Homo sapiens: one gene and its partner. The protein of the gene in region 1 interacts with the protein of each later gene in a biochemical or structural test. Each region holds a gene or a part of one and is shown on either strand. Other genes may lie near its edges.

Evidence for each region. The genes of interacting proteins can lie anywhere in the genome.
Region 2: the proteins of MYH9 (region 1) and ATG9B form a complex in vitro, tested with the Homo sapiens proteins (one study listed by BioGRID).

Annotation. Positions count from the first base shown.
Region 1 is NC_000022.11:36,293,924-36,297,570, forward strand, and holds part of MYH9 (myosin-9), read right to left. Parts: intron 3,092-3,647; coding exon 2,920-3,091; intron 1,795-2,919; coding exon 1,582-1,794; intron 1,154-1,581; coding exon 1,009-1,153; intron 376-1,008; coding exon 169-375; intron 1-168. UniProt on the Homo sapiens protein: Cellular myosin that appears to play a role in cytokinesis, cell shape, and specialized functions such as secretion and capping. Required for cortical actin clearance prior to oocyte exocytosis. Promotes cell motility in conjunction with S100A4.
Region 2 is NC_000007.14:151,022,388-151,026,134, forward strand, and holds the start of ATG9B (autophagy-related protein 9B), read right to left. Parts: upstream 2,108-3,747; 5' UTR 2,037-2,107; coding exon 1,487-2,036; intron 1,344-1,486; coding exon 1,300-1,343; intron 1,123-1,299; coding exon 1,058-1,122; intron 820-1,057; coding exon 658-819; intron 1-657. UniProt on the Homo sapiens protein: Phospholipid scramblase involved in autophagy by mediating autophagosomal membrane expansion. Cycles between the preautophagosomal structure/phagophore assembly site (PAS) and the cytoplasmic vesicle pool and supplies membrane for the growing autophagosome.

The sequences.
Region 1 (3,647 bases):
TCATCTCCTTTAGGTAAAGCTGGACCTGAGTCACAAGCTGAACCATGAGGGTCTGAGGAGCCAGTTTGAGAAGAGAGAGAGACAGAGAGCACACATGCACCTGGGGACCTGGGCCACAACTGCTGCTAGGGCCCACTGCCCGCGCCAGGGTCCTGGCGGAGGCCTCACCTGCAGCTTGGTGACCTTGTCGGCCAGCTCTGTGCGCACGCGCTCTCCCTCGTTGAACTTGACCTGCAGCTCCTGCAGCTGCGCCTCCACTTTCTTGCGCTTGTGCTCCGAGTCCCCTTTGCCCTGCAGCAGCACCTTCACCTCGTTGGCCAGCTCCCCCCGCTCGTTCTCCAGAGTCTGCTTTGCCTTCTCGAGGTTTGCTTTCACCTAGCAGGGAAGAAAGCAAAGACGTGAGTGGGGGCCTCCTGACACAAGGCTGGCTGGTCTATCATCACTGGACCCTAGATCCAGACATCGCTGCTTCTGCAGCCCTGACGACGGTGTGCCTGCGTCCTGGACTCAGACGGCTCGGGCCTCATCTGTCCTGTCCTCTTCTCTCTTAGCTGGTGGGTGACACTTGGTTCCTGTCTTCACTGCTTAGGACATCTCACAGCTTCCCCATCTCTAAAATAATACCTGCCCAGCCTTCTGCCCTGGGTAGAGGCCAGGTTCTAGGGCATGGCATTGGTGTTGCAGATGTTAGCAATATTTGTAACGCAATAAGGGGAACTATAATTGTTTGCAGTTAGACTTCCAATAAAGCCTGTCTGAAGTCTGATGTTCAAAGTAACGATGTAATGTTTTCACCCTCAAATAATCACGAGACAGACATACCATAATCCTCCCTTATGAACAGGGAAACTGAGGCACGAGTCACAAAGCCCCTTAGAAGGGGAGCCTGGCCTCAGAACCAGGCAGTTGGGTAGAACCCTGCAACTGCTCTGCAGGACTGGTTTGGATTCTGTGGGCCCAGCACGGGGAACCCTGCCCTCCCCCTGCGGTCTCAGGGAGGCTCCGCACCCGCTTCGTCTGCTCCAGCTGCTCCGCCAGCTCCTCCACGGCCTGTGAGTGCTTCTGCCTCATCTCCTGGATCTGGGCCTCGTGGGTCTTGGCCTCCTCCTCCAGGGTCTTCTTCAGGATGTTCACCTCCTGCTCACGTTTTGACCTGGACAGAGAAATCCCCTCAGAGTGGAGGCCGGGGATGCTGGAGCGAGGCTGTCCCTGGGGCTCTTCCCTGACCAAAGAGAGGCCTGGCCAGGGCACAGGCACTCCAGGCAGCTTTTCTACCCACCGGCCCCTCCTAGCCATCTATCCCATAGCCCAGGCTCAAATACGCCCTGTGAGAGCTTCTGTAGCCTTTCAGCTTTAAAGCCCAGCCTTGCCTCACCCCCAACTTTGAGCCAGGTCCTTCAACAGACTTTCTACTCTGTAGAGAGAAACCGCTGAGGAACCAGCAGCTTCCATGCCTGCTGGTGCCTAAGAGGGCCACGGTGTGTGTGTGTGTGTGTGTGCAGAGGCCCGGGGTCCATGTCTCCAAGCCAAGGCCCCCCTGGCTGCCCTCCCCATCCCGAGGGACTTGGTCCCAGGGCACACCTGAGCTCCTGCTGGGCAGCTGTGGAATCCAGCGTGTCCTCCAACTCTGTTTTCAGAGCCTCTAGCTCTTCCCCAAGGTCCCGTTTCTGCTTCTCAGCTTTATTCCTGGAAGCACGCTCAGACTCCAGGTCTTCCTGGAGTTCAGAGATCTGAGATTCCAGCTCCCGGATCTTCTTGAGGGCCATGTTCTTCTGGGCAGCTTCCTCTTCCACTCTGCCAAAGCGACCAGCAACATCAGTATAAGGAGAGTTTCACCTCCAAGGAGCAGAGTTTGCAGGACAGGCCTGAGAGAGCTGCAGCAGCCAAAGCTGCCTCCTGTGGTCACAATCATGGCACTTAGGATGGCTCTCAGCAGAAACAACATCTGAGACAACCAGATTGAAGGGCAACACCCCTCTGAGAAGCAGAAAACCTCATAGAGGAATCGTTTCAATTTCCAAAGTAAGATTCACTGCTTCAAATATTTTTAAAAGTCAAATGATGTGTTAAATGGGAAGAAAAGGAAATAAAACGCTACACCACAGGACAACTGCAACTCAGTAAAAATACGAATGTGCTACGGACTTTAGATGGTTATGACAGGTCAACGTAGGTTCACCAATTAGAACAGACACAGCACTGTGGTAGGGGATGTTGACTGCAGGGGAGGCGGTGCGTGAGTGGGGCAGTGGATAGATGGAGAATCTTCTGCTGACTCTTCTGTGAATCTAAAACTACTCTAAAAAATAAAGTCTCTTTCTTTTTTTTTTAAACAGAGTCTCGCTCTGTCACCTAGGCTGGAGTGCAATGGCACGATCTTGGCTGACTGCAACCTCTGCCTCCTGGGTTCAAGTGATTCTCCTGCCTCAGCCTCCTGAGTAGGTGAGATTACAGTCGTGTGCCACCACACTGGCGAATTTTTTATATTTTTGGTAGGGATGGGGGTTTCACCATGTTGGCCAGGCTGGTCTCGAACTCCTGACCTCAAGTGATCCACCCGGCTTGGCCTCCCAAAGTGCTGGGATCACAGACGTGAGCCAACGTGCCTGGTCAAGTCTTTTTTTTTTTTTTTTTTTTTTTTAAGTGTGCCTATAGCAAGAAATTAGGAAAGGACTATTGTAGGTGGGTGATAGAGCTGTGGATGACTTTTTTTCAAATTATAAACAAACAAAAGACAAATGAGGCCCCTCACCATGCCCTGAGTGCACAAGAACTGTTTTGCTATGAAATAAATGGCTCTTTTAAGACAACAGTGGAAAGAATGCTCACAGCTCACTAGTGCCGAGAACTAGGGCCAGCAGCAAGCAGGAAGGGCTGGCCCAGGCCACCTGGCCTCAGGCGGGCAGGCGGGGTCCTCACCTGGCCAGGGCGGCCTGGAGCTCCTCCTCTTTCTTGGCCAGCTGCATCTTGAGCTCCGCGATCTGGGCCTGGAGCTCGGCGATCTGGTCGCTGAGGTCTGTGGAGTCTCCCTCCAGCTTCCGGCGGGTCTTCTCCAGCTCCTGTCGCTGCTTCTCCTCCCTGCGGAGGCGCTCTGCAATGCAGGGGGAGCCCACATAGCCCTCAGTGCCATGGGTTCTGTCTCCGTGTCAATTACTTATACAAAATACTGAGCACTCGTTATGAAACGTGTGTCAGGCTTAAAGCATCACAAACACACAGACACTCGCACCCAACTCCTGGATGCAGGAAGAGGACATCACTGCAAACTGCTAGCCCCTGGCATGTCTCTCTCCAACTCACCCCTTGTCCTTCCCTGCCAGGAATTAAGTACTCTCCTAAAGCTGGTGTTTGTAATTCCCTTGGTTCCCTTGAAGGCTGTACCATGTCTGTATCTCTAAAAAACATGTTCAATTGTGTGTGAATCTGAACTTATATAATGGAACTGCCTTGTGTGAATTCCACAGTTGGAATCGCACGGTCAGGGCTCTATGTCTAGCTTTATAACTCTGTGATGTCACTTGGGAAAGCTACTTTCTATACCTCATCTGAATAATAAGCAAAAGGAGACAGCCTACTTCATTAGGATGCTGTGAGGCGCCAATGAGTTACTATCTTAAAAAGCACCTAGAACAGTGCCTGCCTCGTGA
Region 2 (3,747 bases), on another chromosome or scaffold:
AGCCTCCCAAAGTGCTGGGATTACAGGTGTGAACCACTATGCCCGGCCTAATTTTAATTTTTTATAAGGTAAAATGTGGATAGATACGACTCCCATAAACAAAAGCTTTTCAGGATTCTCAACCAATTTTAAGTGTATTAAGATACACTTAATGCACTGTAATTAAGATACACTTAAAAGGCCGGGCACAGTGGCTCACACCTGTAATCCCAGCACTTTGGGAGGCCAAAGTGGGTGGATCACCTGAGGCCAGGAGTTCCAGACCAGCCTGGCCAACATGGTGAAACCCTGTCTCTACTAAAAATACACGTGGTGGTGCACGCCTATAATCCCAGCTACTGGGGAGGCTGAGGCAGGAGAATTGCTTGAACCTGGGAGGTGGAGGTTGCAGTGAGCCAAGACCTCACCATTGCACTCCAGCCTGAGCAACAAGAGTGAAACTCTGTCTTAAAAAAAAAAAAAGATATACTTAATACACTTTAAGTACAACTTAATACACTTAAGTACAACTTAAAGTATATTAAGTGTATTTTTGGTCCTAAGACCAAAAGCTTTGAGAACTGCTGATCTAGATGACGGGACAAAGTGGGGCTCCCGTCTACTCCTCTACCCACTGCCCATGCTTCACCCCCAGGGCCCCACCAGGTTGTCACTAACCTCTCAGCACACTGGGCTGAGGGTAGGATGGCATCTGACAGGGTCACTTTGCTGTGGAACGGCCCAGGTCTGGTATGGTTACTTGGTTGGTTGGCAAAGAGAACATTGTAATCCACGCATCGAAGGAGGAAGGTTGTGAAGGTGACAATGAAAATAAATTGTCTGCCGGGAGGAAGGGGGGGTGCCGGGATGCTGCAGTGATCAGGGACAGCCAGGTGGGCTCCTGCCCCAGCCCCCAGAGCAGCCCATGGTTATCCTCCCTGACCCTGCCCCTGCTGAGCCCTTGGGCTGCTCGGGAAAGCATGGGATGGAAGCAGCTGGCACAATTAAGGAAGCAAAATGACAGAAGGAAGCCATGGGCCCAGGGGACCGAGTTCCGGGCCCGGGCTAAGCGTCTCACCCCAGCTGGAAGACATCCTCCAGCAAGATGCAGGCAAAGCCATTCCGCTGGTGGTAGCTGTAGATGTGGCTGCGTGTCAAGGAACAAGCCTGAGGCACGGGGGGCCTCTCCTGAGGACACCTCCCCTCAGCCCCAACAAGTCTCCCACCCATGACGCCCTCACGGAGTCTCCCTGCCAAGAACAGTGCCAGCTCCAAGAGGACCTTCCCATGCCACCTCTGCAGGCCTAGCGCAAAGGATATCTTGGTGAAGAAACTGTCCAGGTTCTGGATGTGATGCCAGGAGCCTGGGCACAGAGGGGAGAGTGTCAGCCCCTGGCATGTGATCAATTCTCCACGTTCTCAACCCGCTGCCAGAGGCCCAGCCTGGGATAAGTACTGGAGCTCCCAGGCACCACTAACCCTCTCCCACCCACACCCACACACATACCTCGGAGCCCTTCAGGGACATGAAGCAGGGGTTGCTGCTCCTCCCCGTGGATGGGTGAGTCTTGGGACCCCTCAGGGTCACAGTCCTCCAGCCGCTCATAATCCTGTTCAGGGATCAAAGGGCCTACCCGCAGCCCAGGAGAGTCCTGGGGGCACTGCTGTGAGGGAGTGGGGGTTGCCGGGGCCAGGGGTGGGGTGGAGTGGGATCCCCAGGAGGGAGATGCAGAGGCAGGTGTCATTGCAGGTTGAGCCTGTGTTGGGGGGGTGGCTGGGATAGGGAGAGCACTGTGGCAAGACTGAGAAGCCCCTGTCCCCTGTAGCACTGAGCAAGGGGGCCCTGCGGTGGGAGGGGAAAATGAGGAGGGGGAGCTTCTTGTATGAGGGGCAGGGGACAGAGAGAAGATGGAGATCCTCCCTCCCCCAGGTCCCCGGCATGAAGGAGGAGGAGGAGGTGGCAGTGGCATGGGGAGGAGGGGCACCGATCCGGGCCCCAGATCTCCCCACCGCCCCAGCCGCCTTCTTCTCCCCCCCCAGCCCATTCGGCTCACCATCAGGCCACGGCTTCTCCAGAAAGGTTGGAAGGATGGGAGCTGTTGTTGCTTCCACAAAGGTCTGTGACACTGAGCTGGGACTTCAACAGGAACAATGACAACAACATTACTAGGTGACTCAGCCTAGGCAGGCCTCAGGCGTCCCAGCTCTCAGTCACCTGTCTGATCACTCACACCCCTTCCAGGGCAACCTGAGGCCAAATCCCTCAGGGCCTGAGAGGGGCATCAGTTTAAGAGGAGGGGCCAAAGAGCACATTGAGATGAGAAGATTCCTATTATCTCCATCTTCAGACCTTGAATGAATGAAAGATAAAAAGAACAGCAGCCAAAATGACAAAAGCAAAAAGCAAAATCGTGTTAGAGCCAGGTGTGGTGATGTGTGCTTGTGTTCCTAGCTACTCAAGAGACTGAGGTGGGAGGATGGCTTGGTGCAGGTTACACTGGAACAGTATAGGTTACAGTGAGCTAGATCCTGCCCCCTGCCACCCCCCCCAAAAACATCCTATTAAAGGATTGTAGCAGGGCGCAGTACCTCACACTTGTAATCAATCTCAGCACTTTGGGAAGCCGAGGAAAGAGGATTGCTTGAGGCCAGGAGTTCAAGACCAGCCTGGGGAACAGAATGAGAAGACTCCATCTCTACAACAAATCTTAGGACCAAGATGTTAACTATTTCATTTCTTAAGAGTGTACCTCCCCCACTTCCCTCCACACACACACTACAGTGATCAACAGAGAAATGTTTTGTGACCAAAACAGAAAAGAAGAAGTAAAGGGGCCAGGCATGTTGGCTTACACCCGTAATCCCAGGACTTTGGGAGGCCCGGGCGAGAGGATCACTTGAGGCCAGGAGTTCGAGACCAGCCTGAGCAACTTAGGGAAACACCATCTCTACAAAATCTAAAAAACAAACAAAATAATTTTTTTTCTTTTTGAGGCAGTCTCACTCTGTCACCCAGACTGGAGTATAGTGGCACAATCTCGGCTCACTGCAACCTCCGCCTCCCAAGTTCAAGTGATTCTTCTGCTTCAGCCTCCTGAGTAGCTGAGACTACAGGTGTGTGCCACCACACCCAGCTAATTTTTTGTATTTTTAGTAGAGATGGGGTTTCACCATGTTGGCCAGGCTGGTCTTGAACTCCTGACCTCGTGATCCACCCGCCTTGGCCTCCCAAAGTGCTGGCATTACAGGCGTGAGCCACTGCGCCTGGTCAAAAATAAATTTTTTAAAAAGAATAAGAAAAGGTTGCATGTTTTATTGGTCTGAGGTGCTAAGGAAGAGAAGAGGGGAGGCTGACTTTGCAGCCAAGTTGGGGAAAACTAAGAAGAGGAGGTGAAGAAAGGAAAGGCAGCTATCTTGGATTTGAGAGTTGGTTTGGAGAACTTAGAGTAGAAAATTGGGGTTCTCTGAAAGTTCCATTCCGTTTGCATCCTTATCATTTTCAACTGTGACATTCTCTCAAGTCCGGATCCCACTTCTGGGACCCCCTGAAAAGCATCAGGGCTGAATCAGAAGGGAGGACAGCTGTGAGTCTGGGACTTGGAAGGATAATTTGGATACCCAGGGAGGAGCTGAACTGAGTTCCTTGTTGTCACCTCAACAAGGAGGAGGAGACCCAGGCAGCTGGTCTGGTGGCTTGCCCAACGCCATTCTTGAGGCCCTGAATCACCAGGTTTCCTTCTAAAGCCCATTACTGAGATACTGACTCAG